7 linked regions of the Homo sapiens genome follow. The protein of the gene in region 1 purifies or fractionates together with the protein of each later gene. This does not show direct contact. Each region holds a gene or a part of one and is shown on either strand. Other genes may lie near its edges.

Region 1 (2,644 bases):
ACACCACTGCACTCCAGCCTGGGCGACAGAGTGAGATGCCATTAAAAAAAAAAAAAAAAAAAAAAAAGTTTAGCTTTGAAGCTATGAGGCTATATTTTTCCTGCTGTGACTTTAGTTTTTAATTAGATTTTCTATCCACATTGTATATATCTTTTACCCATTCAAGTTTGTAATCTATCTTGCTTTTAAAGACACACACCTTTTTCTCCACAAGTTGCAATTACCTATCGTTTGCATATAAAATTAAATAATTTAGATTTTTTGAAATAATATGTGAGGTTAAAATATTGCTTGCCAATGCTCCAAACAAAAATGATTACTTTTAAAATGGTATCGACCGGCAATGTGTGAATTACCATCAAAAGCAACCTGGTAGGATTTCATTTATGTTCCAAAATACTTAGAGAAACCCAGTAGAAAAAAAAAAAAAAAACAGTGGAAGTGATCCCCAAATGCTCCTTGTTGAGTTATTCTCTTAGAAAAGCTTCTGTAAAGTCTGTCTACAAAGGTAAAGGGTTTGGTGTTTTTGTATAGTTCCTAAGATGCCACAGTAGCCTCACAGCTGTCTGTTGCAGCTTGCTGTTTCCCAGAATGAGAATAAATGAGTGGCACGAGGGAAAGGCATTTAAGGCTAACATGACAAACTTTATGCACTTGTTGTTCCACAACATAAAAAATATCCAATTGGCCACTTGTAAGGAAAAAAAATGAACTATGAAGAGGAAAAGGAAAGACATCACCATTTTCATGGCCCTCCTATGGGCCTCTGTGCTGGAGTCTCTAGAGCCCAAGGAACTGAGCTTCAAATTTCTAGTATGTCTCACCAAGGACAGAAATAAAAAAAGCAAGGAGGTCAGGAACAGAGAAAAGGGGATAAAACTGGTCAAGCTGAGAAGAGTTTTTAAAATAGAGAGTTTATCATAGAGAGTTTTACTTTCATCTAAATATAAAGTCAGATTACTTTTATCTATTATATTGAGTGAGATATCAATAAATATTTCTAGCACTAAACTGTCAAAAATCAGTAAGAACAAAGACAATATAAGAAGCATAACAATCATTCCGTTCATCCTCCACCTCAGCCAGAGGAAAAGGGAGTGGGGGAAGTGGGCTATCTTAAAGAAATAGAAAATGCTTAGGCAGGTGGCAAGCCAGGTTGTCAAGTGATTAGTCATGTGCCAAAGCATAATAACAGTTTTTCCTAGTCTATATGTGGTATATAAATGTGAAGCAAGTCCCACTAGAAATGAATCAAACAGTATCACCAACAGTTGTCCAATTGTGGAGATAGCCAAGCAGGTGAGGATGAAGTCAGCTGAGAAGACCTTTTGGTTCTTGATCCCTTCAGAGCAGTTTACCAGTCCAATGAACACATTCCCCAGCATGCTGATGATGAATTCTGCTATTGCCAGAATCAGAAAGATTTTGTCCAATTCGGTGGCCATCTCCAGAGACAAAAAAATCCAAGTTTTTAATACTTTGTATCATTAATAAATTTACAATCAAACCATTGCAGAAGAGCATTCATATCTGATACTTATCTTCATTGCTTTTATTGCACTTCCAGTCTTGATCAGAACCTTCTGCTGTTGGATAGAGTCTCATATACTTAAGGAAGTCTTTGCCTATTTTTACTATAATTCTGATCTTAATCCCAAAAGATCTACTAAGGGATGCAGTCTCACATACCTTCACGGGAGTGTTTTCATTTCTTTGAAAGAGCTGCTGAATTCTAAACCAAACAGTTTCTGTGTCCATTTATCATTGTCATGGGCTGAAACTTTCCACTTGTGGTAATGATTAAAAGGATAAAGTCAAGTATATTAATATGCAAATATAGACTGGATTCCCCCCCTTTCTCTGATTTGTACATTTCTGCTCACCTGAAAAACTACACCACTTGGATCCAAATATCTTTATTGTTTTTCAGAGGAAGCTGCAGATATAATCTAATAATTTTGTTATTATTCAACGAATATATTTTATAAGTGCCTGCTGTGTTTCTGATCTTATGCAAATGCAATATATTTACCACAAAAAAAAGCATTAAGAAGTCTATAAAATAGTGAAAACAGGAAAAAAACAATGAGACAGAATCAAGAATAAAATGTGCTATTAAAGCAGAAAAGGGAACTACAAACACTACTGTTGGGGAGAAAAGGGGGGTGACATTTGCTTTGGATCTGGAAAATACTTAGAATTTCATGAGGAAACTCAAGTCATATTTTGAACTCATTGAATAATATCCGAAAGATACCGAAACCCAAACTACTTTTTTGAAATTAAAGTCCTACTGATATTTCAGTCTAAATGTTCCTCAGGTATCTTATAGTAACTTGTTCAAAATTAAACATGGTTTTGCTCTTTACCTTGGTTTTATATATGTTCTATTTTTTTTTTGGCAAGAGATATATTGCTACCAATTTAGCCTTAATAGACAGGTAGAAAATTGTTTTAGATGAAATAAGGAAAGAGGAAACAAAAGTATTTGTTCTACATTCTAGGAACAATTATTTTGACAAAAACCCCCAATGCACCATAATTGAACTCAGAGTTACAGATTATGTGTCTTGGTTTATGGTCAGCAAACAGATATTCTATTACTAGAAATTAGTGTTCAAGTGTTGCCAGACAAAAATTAACC
Region 2 (2,284 bases), on another chromosome or scaffold:
TGAGAGCAGAAGTCAGAAAAGGGTAATAGAGTCAAATGCCTCAAAACATACTTTCGTCGACGAGCTTCTTTCATGATGCGCTGTTCCTGAATCTGGCTATAGATAGATTTTGGTAGATGTCGATGACGAGCTATACGTTTTATATGAGGATAATGCTGAAATTTCTCCTTCAATTTCTGGTTATAATCCTTGGCTGCTTTTTCTCGTGATGTAAGCTGAAAATACACATTTTGGTATCTTAATGAATAGTGTGTTGTTTTGCTTCAGTATAAAAAAGCTAGAAAGCACCCTTTTCCCCCTAACCTAATCTTTTATGATATGCAACCAAAATTGCCAATGTAATTCTGCACTTTACAAGGTTATATTAGTAACACTAGCTCTGCAAGCACTGAATTTCCTTTTAGGCAACACACTCGCCATGTAGATAGATGCCACCCAGTAGAAAGCAGCAGTGCTGAAGGAGTAGGGCCACGTGGATCACTGAGTTGGACCTTCCCTAGGCATCAATAACATAGAAAAGCACCTAAATCACTCACTCAAATTTTGGGGGTGGGTAAAGAGGTGAGTTAAACATAGTGAAACAGCAAAGAAAAAATAAGTATCCAATTCCATAAGAACTACCCTTTGTTTAACGAATGTTAAGGATGATACGATTTAGAGGAACATTTAATGATGGACCTAGGCACAATGCAATACTTATCAATCATTAAACCTAAAACAGAATTGCCTTTGATTTTCCTATCAGGACTAAGTAGAAAATAATTCACACTTACCCTTTCCTTCTTAAACTTAATATTTATTTCTAATATAAACACTCTGTTTCTTATAGAAAATATGGGACATTTAGAAAAACATCAAGAACAAAACAAAATCAACCATAATCCCCTATCCTGGAGGTAACCAGCCAATGATAACACCTGCTATTTTTTCATGGAATCTTTTTTAAAGTATGAAGCTTTCTGTATTTATTAAATGTTCCATTGTGTCTTTGATATTACAAGATCTCCCAGGGACTTGCAGCCTTTGAGTTGCTGGATGACTATTTCTCTAACAAGAGATACGAGCTCTAAGTTCTGAGCCTCTAGTTCCTGCATCTTCTGTCCCTACCTCAAGGAAAACACAAAAAACCAGTAAGACTCAATATTATCAAACATCTGAATTAACAAAGGCATTCTGAAGGTCTTAAATGTCAATTTGAATGTACAGTGTCTACAATAATAGATCAGAATGAAGCAAATAATTATCAATACAACCTTGTCCATTTATTGCTTTTTTTATCACAGCTATGTCAATTTAATCAAAATACCCAAAAATACCTAAAAGTAAATTTTCATAATGTAATATCTAATAAAATTAGAAATCAGCTTTATGACAATGAAAGAAAATGAATTCTCTTACCACACCCAATTTTTCAGAAGCATTAGCTTTCCACAGGCGAATGTTCATTTCATCAGATCCACACATAATATACTTGCTGTCAGAAGTCCATTTTACACAGATAACATGTTGCATTCTCTTTGTATGATATACCTCCCTATAGAAAACGAATTAAGTTAAAACCCTTTGGATTTTGGTACAGATTTTGAGTAACCACTGCCTATTAAGTATCAGGATACTATTTCTGAGTCCTATAGGAGTATAAAATAAAAACTCAAATTCTTGTCAATGTATTTTTATTGAACCCAACTAATAAGGTTCCGTGTTAAGTGCTGGGGTAGTAAACAAATTTCTGCTCTCAGAGAACTTACTATCTAGTAAGAGAAATAAATATGAACAAACTAAGCAAAACCAGATGTACAGAAAAGTTCACAGAATAACTAAAAGCATAAAATGCAAATAAAATATGATGTTCAACCAAGGTAACTTTGTAACAAAAAGAAAGGACTTGATCTTAAAAGGCCTCTTCCCCATATCAAATCAATTCAGGTCAACACACTTTTTTTCCCCTTCATTTTACTGAAAAAGAAAGAAATGCAATGGTCTTCAAAGAGTACCTCCTGATATGCTGAATCTAATGCCAGAATTTTGTTTTGGTTAAATTGTTTAAAAAGCTTAATTAATTAGACCAGCCTGCCCAACATGGTGAAACCTTGTCTCTACTAAAATTACAAAAGTTAGTTGGGCGTGGTGGCACACACCTGTAATCCCAGTTACTAGGGAGGCTGAGGCAGGAGAATCACTTGAACCTGGGAGGCAGAGATTGTAGTGAGCCAAGATTGTGCCACTGTACTCCAGCGTGGGTGACAGAGTGAGACTCTGCCTCAAAAAAAAAAAAAAAAAAAAA
Region 3 (3,500 bases), on another chromosome or scaffold:
GCCAGGCTGGTCTTGAACTCCCGACCTCGGGTGATCTGCCCGCCTCGGCCTCCCAGAGTGCTGGGATTATAGGCATGAGCCACTGCACCCAGCCAATTTTTTTTTTTTTTTTAAGAAAAAAAAAATGGAGACCGGGTCTCGCTATATTGCCCTGGCTGCTCTCAAACTTCTGGGCTCCAGCAATCCTCCCACCTCGGCCTCCCACACTGCTGGGATTACAGGCATGAGCCACTGCACCCAGCCTATTTCTTAAATGATGGATCATACGAAAGAAGACAGCACTCCCATGAGCCACTGCACCCAGCCTATTTCTTAAATGATGGATCATACGAAAGAAGACAGCACTCCACCTCAGCCCTCCTATCTCCCATATTAGTGTCACAGCTTTAATGCCACTTTTTTCAGTGTTGAGGGTATTCTCTAACCTCTCGCCCCCTATTATGAGTCCCATATCTCTTTGCAATATTTATTTGCAATAATTTAGACGTATTTAGAATGGTAATTATTTAATGTCTGGTTTTTTTTCCCCACTCCAACAGCAAAATGTAAGCTCTATGTGGGCAGGAACTGAATATCTTTCATTGCTAAACTGAGTATGTGACAGATGCTTACTAAGTATCTGTTGATTACTTGTCATACCCTCAAGACACTTGTTGTATCTCCTGCTTCCTCACTTACCCACTATCTTGTACTTATCACTAAAATCAACACTTTCAGAAGACATCAAATCCCTCTCCCTTTGAATAAAACACAAATTTGTGAGCTCACTGCCATCTTTTCTCCAATTTCTTCCCTGAGGTCTAGTTGGGCCAAGTTATTTCCTTCTCCTACTTCTATTTTTGATTCTTCTTATTAATAATCTATACTTTCACTAATTTCTCTTTCTCTTAAGGCCCATAAAGTAGATGCCACCATGCCTTCTTAACTGACTTAAGACAATTTATCTGCACATCAGACTATCCCCTAACAGCATTTCTCTCTTTTGCATCAACTTCAAAAGGCTAGAAGCTACACTATTCCATATAAGTATATGTGTGGTTGTTTCAATTAATTAAAATTAAAGAAAACTTAAAATTCCCCTTCTTCCAGCTATAGTTATTAGTAATAAGCCTAAATTTAATTTCAAAGATTTGGTAAATAAATATCAAATGTATTCCATTCATAACTTTTATGATTTTGAGCTTTCAATCATATGCCCTTGAATGTTGATCTTTTCTGACCAAATCTCAGCTTCTTATTTGGTCTGTCTGCATGTGAAAGCCTCTCCTTATGCTGATTTTATCAGCTTTCTTCAGACTTTATCCAGTTCTAACACCTCACAATGCTTTATACATTGCAGACAATCAACACATCTTAAAACATGAATATAGACCAGGTCAACCTGATATTCATCTTTCTTGATGAGTACTTGGAAAAGAAATGTCTACATATGTAGAAAAAAAAATCCCTGAAATACCAATAGAAACTAGGAAACAAAGACACCATTTACCAGAAAGAATCACAACAGAAATAACTCTTGCAATGTGTGGAGTGATATATTTATAATGGGAAAAATTAGTGAACCAATTTAAATGTCATAATATAAACAGTATGTTTCATTACTTTTTACATGTCTCAACCTAAAACTTGGAAGAACCTGAAGTAAATGGTCAAGTCAATGGATTTCTTTTTAATCCTACAAAAGTGAACTCTTGCACTCAGTAGAAGCCCAATAAATATTTGTTGTTGAAATTACAATATACTATACCGAAAGAAGTAACCTAACATTGTAACAGAGAACAATAGGATTTTGTTATCTAGGTAAGGAAGTTAAACATAACAGCAGGTAGCACAAAGGAATCAGCTTAGCAATAATAAATTTCAGATTATGAGGAATAGAAAACATTACAATTACATATAGAAAATACAAAGCTAGTGTTACAGCTCTTTTAGAATTTGTCTAGTAGGCTTTCCGGTTTTTGCAGGAAAGCCCCCCCAAAAAGAAAATACAAATCTTACCTGAAGATCTTCTGAGAATATGATAAGTAGGAAAGTACTTAACCTAGAGTAGGAAAGTATTAATAAAAGAATTAGGCTACAGATTTCTTTCAACCTTAACTTTCTCCATACACTAGAGTATAGTGAAAAAGCAAAGTATATGTAAGATCTTGAAAAGAGATAATGATAAACTAAGTTACTTCCTCACAAACAATCTGGATTCAGGAAATTTGTCTTCTATAGCTTTTGTGACTTTTCATAACACATCACACAGTACTCTACACATAGCAGATGGTCAATACATATTAACTAACTGATTCTTGGTAAGGATACTCCTGTTTGGGCTTTACTTTATCTTTCAGAACCAAATTAGGTGGTTTATCCTGTTCTTTTTCATACTCCTTGAAATCACTCTTGGTGTATTTCCCACCTATTTATTAAGAAAAGAAAAAAAGAGCTTAGTAAAAAAACCACCTAACCAAGAACAATAATTATTTTATAAAAAGCATAAGAGCTATTTTATAAATGGCATATATCGAGAGACAGAGAAAGGGAACAAAAGAATCATAGTAATTCCATCTCCATTACTAATTTGAAATCAGACATCCATTTTTGCTAGGTAGCCACATGCTGCCACCTAACGATATATGTGAATATTACAACATCAAACTTTCAAATAAATTACACACAAATGCCGTGTTCAAGTAGAGCCATTGAGCCCATGAGAACATTAAGTCCAGTGGAAAACTGAGGATTTGGGACCTGAGTTTAAGATCTGAAAGACCTAAGTTTGAGAGAAGTGAGACTTTAAGAGACCTTTTAAAGATCTAACGAGATAGTGTGTGCCTGTAATCCCATCTACTCGGGAGGCTGAGGCAGGAGGATCGCGTGAACCTGGGAGGCAGAGGTTGCAGTGAGCCGAGATCGTGCCACTGCACTCCAGCCTGAGCGACAGTGCGAAACTCCGTTTCAAAAAAAAAAGATTTAACAAGAGATACTCTGCTAAATGGCAACAGAGCATCAGGCAAATAGAAGAGGGCAGGATGTGCAGAAGATCACCAAACAGCTGTGAGAGGAGAGGGTGGGTAATAGCACCAAAGACAAACTGTCTCTACTTTGAAATTCTAACTTAGGGGCAACTTCATTCCTCCCAAGTGCCAAAAATCCCCTCAGGAAAATAGGACCTACTGCTACATCCTAACTAGCTTGGTAGGGCTAGAAAGGAAGAGCATTCAATGCAGCCTCTCTACTCTCAACTCTAGTCTCCTATCAGATGAGAATTCAATTTTCAAGTCTCCTACCAGATGAGAATTCAATTCGCATCCATGTCCCAGACCTGTTGACTGCCCTGCCTTTCCTATCCCTCAACCACACCACTAGGAAATGCTGTTTGTAGAAAGGCTTCCTACAGAAGGGTCCTAGATTAAATGTAGAAGTAAAACAAACTGGAGGTACAGACAGAGGTTTTGACTGAGAATCCTATGTGTACCTTGATTGTCAGGGTTTTAAAGGGGGACCCATAG
Region 4 (3,500 bases), on another chromosome or scaffold:
AGCTCAGGAGTTTGAGACCAGCCTGGACAACATGGCGAAACCCCACCTCTACAAAAAATACACAAATTAGTTGTGCGTGGTGGCATGTGCCTGTAGTCCCATCTACTTGGGAGGCTGAGGTGGGAGGATGGCTTGAGCCCAGGAGGCAGAGGTTGCAGTGAGCCGAGATCTTGCCACTGCACTCTGGCCTGGGTGACAGAGAAGACCCTGATTTAAAAAAAAAAAATCCCTTTTCATGTTATTCTCAGAAAAAAAATACTACTGCCTTTACTAAAATTAAAACTAAGAGACCAAATAACAGAAAGGCACATTCCGGATCACTCCAGAACCCCAGAGGCACTGTCACCTCTTCTTCCTCTGATACACTGACCTTTAGAGTCATGCTTTGGTAGGTTTTCTGGTGCAAAGGAGCAAGAGGCCTTGAGACCACTTTTTCATCTCTACTGTACATAGAATGGCCCTTAATGAGTAACTACTATGTACCAGGCATTATATCGAACCACTTACAACTGTTATCTCATTTAAGTACCAGGACAACTCTATGAAGTCTACATCATCACCTCCATCTTATAGACCAGGAAACTGATTCAGCAATGTGATATCATCTGTCCAAGGTCACAAAGCTAGACAGTAGCAGGGAAGGACTAAAAATTCATATTCTTTATTTCATATTATGTTTCCCCTAGGAATCTCTGAATCTTTAAACTTGATGCAAATAAAATATGAAATGGATGATTCTACTATTCATAGTGTTATGACAGAGACTGCTAATTGCCTAATATGCCTTCCTACCCATTATCAGAACTCTTATGTGTCATGACAATGGCATAAACTAAAAGATATTTTCCAGCCTTCCCTGCACTTAGGTGTGGCCATGTGACAATGTCCTGGCTATTAACAGTAAGTAGAAGTTTCTGGTTAGAACTCCTGGAAAAGGTCTCAATAAGGAAGATGGACAGCTGGTCCACATCTTTTTGCCCTCCACATCCACCTGTCCTTCTTGATGTAAAGCTGAATCATGAATTCCACAGCCATCTTGGACCATGAGGAATAATGAACATGGAAGCCACTGGTAAGAATGGCAGAGGAAAAAAAGTGAAAAAGCCTGGATCCCTGATGACTCTGTCGAGCTACTAAATCAAATTTATTTCACACTAGACACATAAAATCCCATTTTGTTGAAAACACTGTTATTTCTAGCCGGTTACTAGGAGCTTAATGTAACTCTTGACTGAAAGAAGCCTTTTTCCCAAGTTGCTAGAGATACAGCAGCCATTATTTTAATCTATAACGCAAATTAAGACATTTCACAAAGTTCAAGGAGTTAAAAGGGCAAGATCACCTTGTTCTGGAGCACAGCAGTGAGGTGAGGATTGGAGAGTGCTGGTGTAGCTGCACTTTGAGGTAGGTTCATTAGCTGTCGCAAAAGGCTGGTGATACTCACTGATGGAAGATGATAGAGAAGGAGAGAGAAGGGACTCAGTAAGCATGGCAGCACCTACAAAAAACAAATAAAAGCATTATATCCTGGCACGTGTTACTTCAGTTACCCCCCACCAGGGGCATGGATGGAAGGATGTTCATTTGTATATTCAACCACTTAAGGCACAAGTCTGGCAGATATGACTAGAGTCTTAATAATGAATTCTAAGCTATCTACTGAGAACTTTTTCATCTCAATTTGCATTGGAAACACCATGACTTGTGTGAACCAAAGGTGTAAAAAAAAATCACTCCCAAATACATACCAAGAGTTATGCTAAAACATCAATATTTTAACTAATTCCATAAATATTTAAATGCTTACACTACACCATGGGCTAAAAACAAATGGCAAAAGGACACAGAACCTCAGGGATCTAAAGTATAGCGGAGAAGATATGGGTTAATTGGCCATTTCAATATACTGTGAGAAGCACTCCAAGATAGGTTAAAGGCCAAGCAGAAGATCACTTCAGGCCAGGAGTTCAAGACTAGTCTGGACAACGTAGTGAGACCTCATCTCTACAACAAATAAAAAAGTTTCACCTGTAGTCCCCAGCTACTCAATAGGCTGAGGTGGTAGGTTTGCTTGAGTCTAAGAGTTCAAGGTTACATTGAACTATGATTGCACAACCACATTCCGGCTTGGGTGACAGGGTGAGACCCACCCTGTCTCAAAAGAAGTGTTTTCAGATTTAATGTATTTTCTTTTATTTTTATAAAAGCTCAATGAGGAAGAAAAGAAATAATTAGCCAATTTTTATAGATTTTTAGAGAATCTATAAAGTGATCAGAAACTCAGTGTTTGGAGTTACATAGCCACAGCTAGAGCCAGAACCCAAGGCTGTTGAATTCCAGCCTTCTAGTCATTTATTTCTTTTTGTCATGTAGCCAACTGGAAAGTTAAAATAAAGAACTATTAATATAAATAACTAGGTTATAACACAACAAAGGAAATCAAGAGTGCTTCCAGACAATCAATGCACATGGTATAAAGTGATGGCTGGTTTTACTTTAAATGGCAACTGCAAATGGGGAATAAAATATTTTTTGTGGTCTACTATAAATTAAAAAAGCTTTTATTATGGTCATTTTAGAACATACATGAAAATACAAACAACAGCATAATGACATTCATGTACTCACCACCCAATTTCAACATCAACCAAATTATCAACATTTTGCCAATCTTATTAAATCTATGTTCCTTCTGTATCATATCATTTCATCCCAAAATACATCAGTTTGTATTTCTAACAAAATCTCTCACAATATCATACCTAACAAAATAAACAATAATTTTTCTTCATAGACCATTTCTCAGGAAAGAATTTTAAAATATCATCTAGTATCTGTTTCAAATTCAAATTCCCTCAAATGCCTTTAAAAATATCTTTTAGCAGCTGAACTTTGTATTAGAACCATTATTGTGCTAATTATGGTTCAAACAAGATCCACACATTGCATTTGCCTGGTAAGGTTTTTAAAATCTCTCTAACAGGTCTTCTGCCACTGGCCCTTTTCTCTTGTTATTTATCTGTTAAAGAAACTGGGTCATTTGTTCTATAGTTTGAATTTGGCAAACTGCATGTTGGCAGTGTCACTTAGCAGGTTCTGCTATCCTCTGTTTCCCTCCTAAACAGATAGTTAGAATAACAGGTTTATTTGATTCAGGTTCAGTAGGATGTGGGAGGGACATGTGAGAAAACGTCATGGATAGAACTGTGTATTTTCCATTGCATTATGCCAAGAAGAGCTAGGTATGGTGGCTCATGCCTGTAATCCCTGCATTTTAGGAAGCAGAGATGGGAAAACTGCTTGAGCCCAGGAGCTCGAGACAAGCCTGGACAACATAGGGAGACTTCGTTTCCTTTTTTTTTTTTTTTTTTTAAAAAAAAAAAAAAAGCACAGTGCTTGGTTGTCCCACTCTTAGAGGTGTTAAGAGTTCATTAATGGGTTCAGGTGTTGCCAGGCTGCTCCAACCACTGTAAAGTTCCCCATCCACTTTTTTTTTTTTT
Region 5 (3,500 bases), on another chromosome or scaffold:
TTAGCATTTCTTATGATTCTTAGTAAATCTAATATTCTGGTGTGGATGGAATTGTAGTTCCAAAATTTTTATGGAAAAAATATAATTAGTAATTACTAATTAAATTCTTCCATTTACAAATGTTCTTGATTTTACATGAAGAAGTAATTTGCAAATAAAAGTTTTACAGTCCATAATCTAATTTAAATGCTACATGACTGATTGTTAGGGACCTTTGGATGGCTTTTTCCAGAGCAAACAGTGTTTGGTTGTTTGGTACCCTACAGACAACACAATAAATACATTTTGAATAAATTAATGAAATTGGAATTTTTATTTCATAAATGTTAATGAGACGTGCCTGAGTTAGCTGTGTTTTTAGAGCTGCAAGTCTATTTATAAAATACATTTGTGCCTATTCATTGTTAGAATTTTGTTTGTAGCTTTTAAGGTAAACTTTGATTAAGTTAACGTAACCTTGACAATTTTTAAAAATACTGTTGAAAACATTTTTCTTTTCCATTTTTCAGTTTCTTTAGGTGATTTTTCTGACACTTCAGCAGATGAAAATTCAGTTAATAAAAAAATGAATGACTTTCATATATCAGATGATGAAGAAAAGAATCCTTCAAAACTATTGTTTTTGAAAACCAATAAATCAAACGGTAACATAACCAAAGATGAGCCAGTGTGTGCCATCAAAAATGAAGAGGAAATGGCACCTGATGGGTGTGAAGACATTGTTGTAAAATCTTTCTCTGAATCTCAAAATAAGGATGAGGAATTTGAAAAAGACAAAATAAAAATGAAACCTAAACCCAGAATTCTTTCAATTAAAAGCACATCTTCAGGTAATTTGTTAGGATTACTGTAATTGCATTTCTTGGAAGTTTATTTTAAGATAATCAGTCCCAAAATTTTTATATGGTAGCTAGTATATATTTAAGAAAAAAAGACAGACTTAACTTCCATTTTACAGACCTGTTGTATTTTGTCTAACTTCAATTTTACAGACCTGTTGTATTTTGTCTAACTTCAATTTTACAGACCTGTTGTATTTTGTCTTGCATCTAGGCTGTTGCCTGATAGAAAGCCAAAGCACAAAGCCAAAGCACCTTTAGTCATCCATAGCATCCATAGCTGTGGATCTCCAGACACCTAGACCTGTGAGCTTCAGTTTTGTTTGTAGGTGTGGAACTGGAATGGAATGCTGTCTAATCCCTCTCACACTCCAAAGATTAGAGTTACAGCAATATTGAGACTAATCCTTCTAACAGTCTTTGCCATACCAACATTGTGCCAGAAAATTTTCTTGACATTTGTATATTTGAAGGATGAGTTATGTTATTGCTGCTGTTGTTTGTTGAAGCATCCAGGCACTCCTTAAGAGAATCTCCATTTGATCTCTGTATTGCCTATGAAAATCTACTAAGATTCAGTTTTCCAAAGGAAAGTTCCTGGTGTGATCTGGGATTACAGTTAGTTCTGCCCACAATTTTACTGAATTTTAAGCATAAAGGAACAAAGATAGAATGAAACGGAGACCAAGTCCTGTCACATACCCTGGGCCACCATTCATGAACTTGTATATGCAAGGTTAAGGATTTTTTGTTTTTCATTCTTTGTATTTTATAAAGGAATTATTAGTTGATGTTAACCTTCATAAAAATCTCCTTGCATATCATCAGTAAATACAGTGCTGGTAAATATTTCATACTTTGCATATTAGATACCAGTGGTAACGTCAGACAAAACTTTATTTCAGGCATGTATTGGGGAACTGCTCCTTTCTTCCTGACCCCACAATCTCATTAACTTTGAAATGAGCAAAGGATGTAAGCAGAGCAAAGAACACTAGAATAATATCCAGGACACTGGGGGAAAGGCCTCTGTATATTATATATGACTTCAGCAAATAAGTTAAGCTTCAGTATCCTCATGATGAGGAAGCTAAAAATAACCCTCTTTCTATTCCTGCAAAATTGTGAGAGTTTATTGAAGTGCATCTCATAAACTATAAAAAACTACAAAAATGCAAACAGATGCATAATGAAACAATTAACTTGTTAAAATGTACCTTCTAAGTATAGTGAGTGAAATCAATGCTGGAGAGAAGAGGAACATAATTGAACTTCGTTATTAAGAAAATGCGAGCATATATAGCAACTAAAAATTTGTCTGAGACAGGTGGATGTATATAATTAGAAGTTTATGGTAGATAATCAGGAAAGCAATAATCCACCTATTTCATACCTTAAAAAAAAAAAAAACCTGTGGTGGGTTACAATGAATAAGAAAATACTGTATTTTAACCACAAGGTGGCATCAGGATCCTAAATGCTCTACTTATATATGCAATGTTATATTCAGTACGTGTAATATAAAAATAATTACCTAAATAGGTAATTGTATACATTGATTACCAAAAAAAGCGCTTTTCTTAAAGTATAGGCATTTTTTTTTCTTTTTGGGAACTTGACAGTACTTCTGGAAGTGGAATTTTTGTAGAAAATATATTAAAGTTGTCATTCTCAGGTTCTTCAGGTTGAAAAGTAAAAATTGAGGCTAGTGTTCCTAAGATAATATCTGGCATATATAATAAGTATTTAAATGAATAAATTAATATATGAATGATTTATCTTTGAAAGAGGGAATATGGTTCATGAGTTTATCCTCTAAATTCTTTGACTTTTTTTTTTTCTGTACAGGTTTGGAACTCAATGTTTTTAATGTGGTGAGATATTGCTGAGTAGCAAGTAATGCTTTATGAAACTATTAGAGCTTGAAGGTTTTCTCTGTCCTTGCTTGTCTTTTGTAAAAAGTATAATAACCAGACTTTATAGTCACTACTGAAGTGACAGTTGCTCTATAAAGTGAAAGTATTTTTCACAGGATATGTTTTTATTTTAATACTAACATGACTGAAATCATGAACTTTGGAGTCAGGATGCTTCTCCTTTAATCTGAGATCTGCAGCCTGCTAGAGTTTGTGACTTTGGGCATGAGACCTCTTTGTTCTCATTTTATTCATCTTTAAAAACGGGATAATAGTTGCCTGCCTCTAGGAGTTTGAGGCAATTAAATGAGTTCACATATTTGAAGTGCTTAGAATAGTACTGGCATAAATTTAGCACTCTATAAATGTTCTGATTATTCATTTTATTATTTAGCGTTTGTTTATAAACATGCTCAGCAGGTATAAAGTATCAGTCATGCGGGATGCGTAAGTTCTAGAGATCTGCTGTACATTGTGCCTATAGTTAACAGTACTGTCTTTTGCACTGAATGTATTAAGAAGGTAGATCTCATGTTTGTTCTTACCACAATAATAAAAAAAATTGACTCAACACCTTCTTTCAGGCATTATATAATATTCTGCTTAAACTGAGGCTCAAAAGACATGCAAGCATTTGTCAGGAGGAGAAGCAGGAAGTGGATATTCTAGGCAGGGGGATCAGCTTAGGTAAAGGTATGGTAGCAGGAGGGATTGGAGGGATTGTGGTATGTGTGCATGACAACTG
Region 6 (3,500 bases), on another chromosome or scaffold:
GGATTACACACATGCATCACTACGCCCAGCTAATTTTGTATTTTTAGTAGAAATGGGGTTTCTCCGTGTTGGTCAGGCTGGTCTCAAACCCACGACCTCAAATGATCCACCTGCCTCAGCTTCCCAAAGTGTTGGGATTACAGGCAAGAACCACCACGCCTGGCCTAATTTTTGTTATTTTTAGTAGAGATGGGGTTTCACCATGTTGACCAGGCTGGTCTTGAAATCCTGACCTCAAATGATCTGCCCACCTTTGCCTCCCAAAGTGTTGGGATTACAGGCATGAGCCACTGTGCCTGGCCTTATTTTTCTTCCCCACCCTCACATTCTCTCCTGAGGTTGCACCACACTGGTCTCAAGTTCCTGGCCTCAAGTGATCCTCCCACCTCAGCCTCCTAAAGCACTGAAATTACAAGCATAGGCCACTGTACCCAGCCAAATCTACTTTAAAAGAGAATACCTTCATTGTAAAATTACAAATATAACCCTCCTTGCTTAAATCATATATTCAAGAAGTTTAACATTTAAGTTAATTACGTTAGCTGCAAGAGGATAGTTGCAACATTAATATCAGCTCTTCACAACTAGGGAGACTCCTAAGTATTCTCTCAATGAATTTAAATAAGAAAATGATCCCTAAACAATCACAGGTCTAACTAAGCGAGAGTTGCAAGAGTCAACTCCCAAAGACATATACTTTCAAACTAAATTATCCCAAGGCATGTAAATCAGCATCATAAAACAAAATAATGAATAAACACACATCAAAAGGGTAGGGGCAGTGGCTCATTGCTGTAATCCCAGCACTTTGGGAAGCTAAGGTGGGGGGACTGCTTGAACCCAGGAATTTGAAACCAGCCTGGGAAATATGTTGCAACCTTCTGTCTACAAAAAAATACAAAAATTGCTGGCCAGGCATGGTGGTGCATGCCTGAAATCCCAGCTCTTTGGGAAGCTGAGAAGGGTGGATCATTTGAGATCAGGGGTTCCAGCCCAGCCTAGGTAACATGCCTAAACTTCATCTCTACAAAAAATACAAAAATTAGTCAGATTTGGTGGTGCACAACTACAGTCCCAACTACTCAGGAGGCTGAGGCAGGAAGACTGCTTGAACACGGGAGGCGGAGGTTGCTGTGAGCCAAGATCGTGCCACTGCACTCCAGCCTAGGCAACACGGTGAGGCTCCATCTCAAAAAAGAAAAAAAAAAACACAACTAACTAGGAATGGTGAAATATACCTGTAGTCCCAGCTTCCTGGAAGGCTGAGGCGGGGGAACCCCTTGAACCCAGGAGGTAGAGGTTGCAGTGAGCTGAGATCGCACAACTGCACTTCAGCCTGAGCGACAGAGCAAGACTCATTCTCAAAGGAAAAAAAAAAAAACTAGCCAGGCATAGTGGCTGGCGCACATCTGTAGTTCCAGCTACTCAGAAGGCTGAGGTGGGAGGATCGCTTGAGCCTGGGAGGTCAAGGCTGCAAGGAGCCATAATTACACCACCGCACTTCAGCCCGAGTGACAGAGCAAGACCGTGTCTCAAATATATATATATATAGTTCCTTCATATATACACACACATATATACACAAATGGAAAGTGAAGCAGGAAGAAAAGAATAAAAGAAAAAAGAAATATATATATATAAATATATATTCATATATATACATATATATTCATATATATATATACACACACACACACATATATATGATCTGAGCTGAGGACCTTTTCTCTAGAGATTTACATTCCTACATTCCACTCCTGAATACAAATTTTGCTTTCTAATGGTTATGCAAAGATAAAAATAAAATGAAAAAAAAAAAAAAAAACTGGCCAGGCACGGTGGCTCATGCCTGTAATTCCAGCACTTTGGGAGGCCGAGGTGGGCGGATCACGAGGTCAGGAGTTCGAGACCAGCCTGGCCAACATGGTGAAACCCCATCTGCACTAAAAATACAAAAATTAACTGGGCATGGTGGCACATGCCTGCAATCCCTGCTACTCAGGAGGTTGAGGCAGGAAAATTGCTTGACCCTGGGAGGCGGAGGTTGCAGTGAGCTGAGATTATGTCACTGCACTCTAGCCTGGGTGACAGAGCAAGACTCCGTTTCAAAAATAAATAAATAAATAAATAAATAAATGTCATCCTTCACAAAAGTCTTATTTAAAGAAAAAAAAAAAAAGCAGGCCGGGCGCGGTGGCTCACACCAGGCGTGGTGGTGGGCGCCTGTAGTCAGTCCCAGCTACTCAGGAGGCTGAGGCAGGAGAATGGCATGAACCCAGGAGGCGGAGCTTGCATGAGCAGAGATCGCACCACTGCACTCCAGGCTGGGCAACAGAGCGAGACTCCGTCTCAAAAAAAAAAAAAAAAAAAAAAAAAAAAGCAATCCACCCCATCAACATACCTGAAGGTCCCGTTGGGCATCTCGGGCAGTTTTGCCCTCTGGAAAAGACTTGCTCTGGCCATAGCCAAACATCTGGCTTCCTGGCAGCCTATGATCCACATCACGGTACTCCATGCTTCTGTAATCGGTGTCTTGCCGCCCAAGAAAGTCCAGACCGCCTTCTTCTTTAAACAGACCAGCATCTGAACTCTGCTCTTCACGTCCAGAAAGCTGTGACTTATCTTGGTCTTGAACTGGACTTTGGCTGTTCTGAAAGTCTGCTGGAGACTCATGTTCAAAGGCTACACCTTGTGTTTCTCCTTCTCTTGTTTCTGAATGCTCAAATTCTCCCTTCTGAATGCCAAAAGCAGGCCTTTCTATCGTATGGTCATGTGTGGATTCTTCTCTCCTGTTCACATTCATACCAGAATGTTCTCTATCTTGTGTAGAGGGCTGAATGTAATCCAAAATATTTGGATCCACAGGGGGCATCTCCCTATCTTTAAATTCCATACAAGATCCCATCTCTCTGCCCCTAAAATCCTGATCAGTCCTAGATCGGTGTCTACCTCTGAAATCTGAATGTGGCGTATCCCTGTCCCTAAAGTCTAGATCAGTAGTACCTGAACCTCGGCCTCTAAAGTCTACTTGTGTTCCGTCTTTGTCTCTAAAGTCCAAATCAGATACATCTCTATTCCTAAAATCAGAACGGGACTGTTCTCTGGCCCTAAAATCCAAATCTGATAAATCCCTTCCCCTAAAATCTGCATGGGATCCATCCCGGCCTCTAAAATCTAAATCATAAGTGCCCCGGCCCCTGAAGTCAGATGGAGGAGCATCCCTACCTCTGAAGTCAACAGCGTGAGCATCCCTGTCTCTGTAGTTCATATGAGGTGCCTCCCTACCTCTATAATCCATAGAAGTACCATCTCCACCCCTATAGTCCATAGGTGGTCCTTCTCTATCCCGAAAATCCCCAGAATGTATGTCCCTACCCCTGAAGTCCAACTGTGATGAATCTCTGCTCTGGAAATCAGAAGACGAAAAATCTCCCCCCCTGAAATCATGTCCAGGTCCCTCCCCTCCTCGATAGTCACCATGCGGTCCGTCTCTAGCTCCA
Region 7 (2,739 bases), on another chromosome or scaffold:
ATTGGTTCACCCACTAAATGATCTTGTCATCCTTGAGGGGCCCAGATTTAAGTGGGAGGGGTTTCTGATCTGACTTCCCAGTTGTAGATGCCTTAGGCTTTATTGCCTATCCCAATATGTGGCCCACTAAAAAGTAGTTCTAGGCTACCCACAAATCCCACATAAAAGCAGAGGCCTTAAGGCCGGAACGGTGGCTCAACGCCTGTAATCCCAGCACTTTGGGAGTCTGAGGCAGGCAGATCACTTGAGGCCAAGAGTTTAAGATCAAACTAGCCAACATGGCAAAACTCTATCTCTACTAAAAATACGAAAGAAATTAGCTGGGCTTGGTGGCGGATGTCAGCTACTCGGGAGGCTGAGGCACAAGAATCACTTGAACCTGGGAGGTGGAGGTTGCAGTGAGGCGAGATTGCACCACTGTACTCTAGCCTGGGTGACAGAGCGAGACTCTGTTTCGGGGGGGAAACACAAAAAGAAGGCCACAAAAAACAGAATAAAAAGATGAGTAAAGAGAATGTTTATGAAGTGGCTCCTACATAATGTCCCAGCCCTGGGAGTCACGAACAGACTCCATGGTTTTCATTGGCCCCTCTTCTTCGGTATCAGAATCCCTGGTTTAAGGCAAGGATGAGAGAAGAACACGAGGACGCAATGAACCAGATTCAAGCTGAGGCTGTGTGGCATGGCAGAAGGCTGAACTATTCTTGTGTAGCCCTAGGGATAGTCCAAGAGCCCTCTAGTCTTCTCTGAGGCAATGAGATTCAAGGGCAGCTGTGATCCTTGCCCTTGAACGGAAACCAGCCGTGGCCAAATCTGTCCTCACAGATCCATGTCTCCCTGGGGCAGTGGCAGAGCAGAGGATAGTTCCTTATTACTCTTTGCTCAAAGGGAGATGTCTCCTGTCCTTGCCTGCATTTCGTCGCCTCTTTCGACTCAAGAAGTTCTCCAATTTCTTGCTGCGTTTCAGCTCCTTGAACTTCTCAGCTAGTGCCAACTGGCGCTGCTCAGCTAAATGACAGGGAGAATGAAAGTTGGTGAACAAAGAAGGAAGCCCCTATTCTTTCCCAAACCAGGTCAGTAACTCCAAGCCATTATGCTGGATACATGAGTTCTTTAAAGCTCACTGGTGCCCCTCTATCTTTTTTCTGAGACGGAGTCCTGCTCTGTTACCCAGGCTGGAGTGCAGTGACGCGATCTCGGCTCACTGCAACCTCCGTCTTCTAGATTCAAGTGATTCTCCTGCCTCAGCCTCCGGAGTAGCTGGGATTACAGGCGCGCACCACCACATATGGCTAATTTTTTTGTATTTTTAGTAGAAACAGGGTTACGCCATGTTGGCCAGGCTGGTCTCGAACTCCTGACCTCAGGTGATCCGCTCTCCTCAGCCTCCCAAAGTGCTGGGATTACAGGCGTGAGCCACTGCGCCTGGCCAACGGGTGACTTTTTTTTTTTGAGATGGAGTCTCACTCTGTCACCCAGGCTGAAGTGCTGTGGCACGATTTCAGCTCACTGCAACCTCCGCCTCCCAGATTCAAGCGATTCTCCTGCCTCAGCCTTCTGAGTAGCTGGGATTACAGATGCACAGCACCACACCCAGCTAATTTTTGTATTTTTAGTAGAGACGGGGTTTCACCATGTTTGCCAGGCTGGTCTTGAACTCCTGACCTCGTGATCTGCCCTCCTTGGCCTCCCAAAGTGCTGGGATTACAGGTGTGAGGCACTGCGCCCGGCCCAACTGGTGACTTTTTTTTGTTTGTTTGTTTTTCCTGTGAGATGGAGTCTCACGCTGTTGCCCAGGCTGGAGTACAACAGTGCAATCTAGGCTTTCTGCAACCTCCACCTCCCGGGCTCAAGTGATCCTCCTGCCTCAGCCTCCTGAGTAGCTGGATTACAGGTGCACGCCACCAGGCCCGGCTAATTTTTTTATATCTTTAGTAGAGACAGGGTTTCACCATGTTGGCCCCCAGGCTGGTCTCGAACTCCTGACCTCGTGACCCCCCCACACTGGCCTCCCATAGTGCTGGGATTATAGGCGTGAGCCACCGTGCCCAGCCCAACTGATGACTTTTTATATGATCTCAGTACTACTCAATTCAACCAACTATGAACACCTATGTGCCTGGCCCAGCGTGTGTGCATGTGTGTGTGTGCAGTGTAGACCAAGAAACAAAACTGATTGTGTGTGTGTGTGTGTAGACCAAGAGATAAAACTCTGTGTGTGTGTGTAGTATAGACCAAGAGATAAAACTGATTGTGTGTGTGTGTGTGTGTAGACCAAGAGATAAAACTGACTCTGTGTTTGTGTGTGTGTGTGTGTGTGTGTGTGTGTGTGTGTGTAGTGTAGACCAAGAGATAAAACTCACTGTGTGTGTGTTGGGGGGGGGGGGTTGGGAAGTGGGGAGTGTAGACCAAGAAATAAAGGTGACAATGCCTGCCATGATCTAATTAGGGATACAAGACTGGTTACAAACAACTCCCTACTATTTCTACTTTCCTCCAAGTTACCATGGGATCCAGCCTTCATGCCTTCCTTAAAGGGGATCAGGGACACCCCAACACAAGACTCTACCACCATGGCCCCTGCACCCCTGTCCCTGTTAGCAACAGTTGTGCCCAACTCACATTTTTTCAGGAAGTATGGCCGATGGCCCTGCTGGGCCTGAGCCCGACGTTCTTGCTTCAGGGCCAGGTGCAGCTCCTGCTGTTGCTTTCGTTCCTGCTGTGCCATTTCTTGCTGCT

What was found.
Region 2: the proteins of TAS2R42 (region 1) and DCAF13 purify together in Homo sapiens (affinity purification with mass spectrometry; one large-scale study listed by BioGRID and IntAct). This does not show direct contact.
Region 3: the proteins of TAS2R42 (region 1) and PPIL4 purify together in Homo sapiens (affinity purification with mass spectrometry; one large-scale study listed by BioGRID and IntAct). This does not show direct contact.
Region 4: the proteins of TAS2R42 (region 1) and PATL1 purify together in Homo sapiens (affinity purification with mass spectrometry; one large-scale study listed by BioGRID and IntAct). This does not show direct contact.
Region 5: the proteins of TAS2R42 (region 1) and MAP9 purify together in Homo sapiens (affinity purification with mass spectrometry; one large-scale study listed by BioGRID and IntAct). This does not show direct contact.
Region 6: the proteins of TAS2R42 (region 1) and RBM6 purify together in Homo sapiens (affinity purification with mass spectrometry; one large-scale study listed by BioGRID and IntAct). This does not show direct contact.
Region 7: the proteins of TAS2R42 (region 1) and RRP36 purify together in Homo sapiens (affinity purification with mass spectrometry; one large-scale study listed by BioGRID and IntAct). This does not show direct contact.

Annotation. Positions count from the first base shown.
Region 1 is NC_000012.12:11,185,493-11,188,136, forward strand, and holds TAS2R42 (taste receptor type 2 member 42), read right to left. Parts: upstream 1,446-2,644; coding exon 501-1,445; downstream 1-500. UniProt on the Homo sapiens protein: Receptor that may play a role in the perception of bitterness and is gustducin-linked. May play a role in sensing the chemical composition of the gastrointestinal content.
Region 2 is NC_000008.11:103,439,386-103,441,669, reverse strand, and holds part of DCAF13 (DDB1- and CUL4-associated factor 13), read right to left. Parts: intron 1,535-2,284; coding exon 1,399-1,534; intron 216-1,398; coding exon 52-215; intron 1-51. UniProt on the Homo sapiens protein: Part of the small subunit (SSU) processome, first precursor of the small eukaryotic ribosomal subunit.
Region 3 is NC_000006.12:149,515,044-149,518,543, forward strand, and holds part of PPIL4 (peptidyl-prolyl cis-trans isomerase-like 4), read right to left. Parts: intron 2,408-3,500; coding exon 2,311-2,407; intron 1,974-2,310; exon of another isoform or gene 1,914-1,973; intron 1-1,913. UniProt on the Homo sapiens protein: PPIases accelerate the folding of proteins. It catalyzes the cis-trans isomerization of proline imidic peptide bonds in oligopeptides.
Region 4 is NC_000011.10:59,641,538-59,645,037, forward strand, and holds part of PATL1 (protein PAT1 homolog 1), read right to left. Parts: intron 1,499-3,500; coding exon 1,343-1,498; intron 1-1,342. UniProt on the Homo sapiens protein: RNA-binding protein involved in deadenylation-dependent decapping of mRNAs, leading to the degradation of mRNAs. Acts as a scaffold protein that connects deadenylation and decapping machinery.
Region 5 is NC_000004.12:155,370,466-155,373,965, reverse strand, and holds part of MAP9 (microtubule-associated protein 9), read left to right. Parts: intron 1-509; coding exon 510-830; intron 831-3,500. UniProt on the Homo sapiens protein: Involved in organization of the bipolar mitotic spindle. Required for bipolar spindle assembly, mitosis progression and cytokinesis. May act by stabilizing interphase microtubules.
Region 6 is NC_000003.12:49,967,650-49,971,149, reverse strand, and holds part of RBM6 (RNA-binding protein 6), read right to left. Parts: coding exon 2,402-3,500; intron 1-2,401. UniProt on the Homo sapiens protein: Specifically binds poly(G) RNA homopolymers in vitro.
Region 7 is NC_000006.12:43,027,361-43,030,099, reverse strand, and holds the end of RRP36 (ribosomal RNA processing protein 36 homolog), read right to left. Parts: coding exon 2,623-2,739; intron 1,009-2,622; coding exon 872-1,008; 3' UTR 501-871; downstream 1-500. UniProt on the Homo sapiens protein: Involved in the early processing steps of the pre-rRNA in the maturation pathway leading to the 18S rRNA.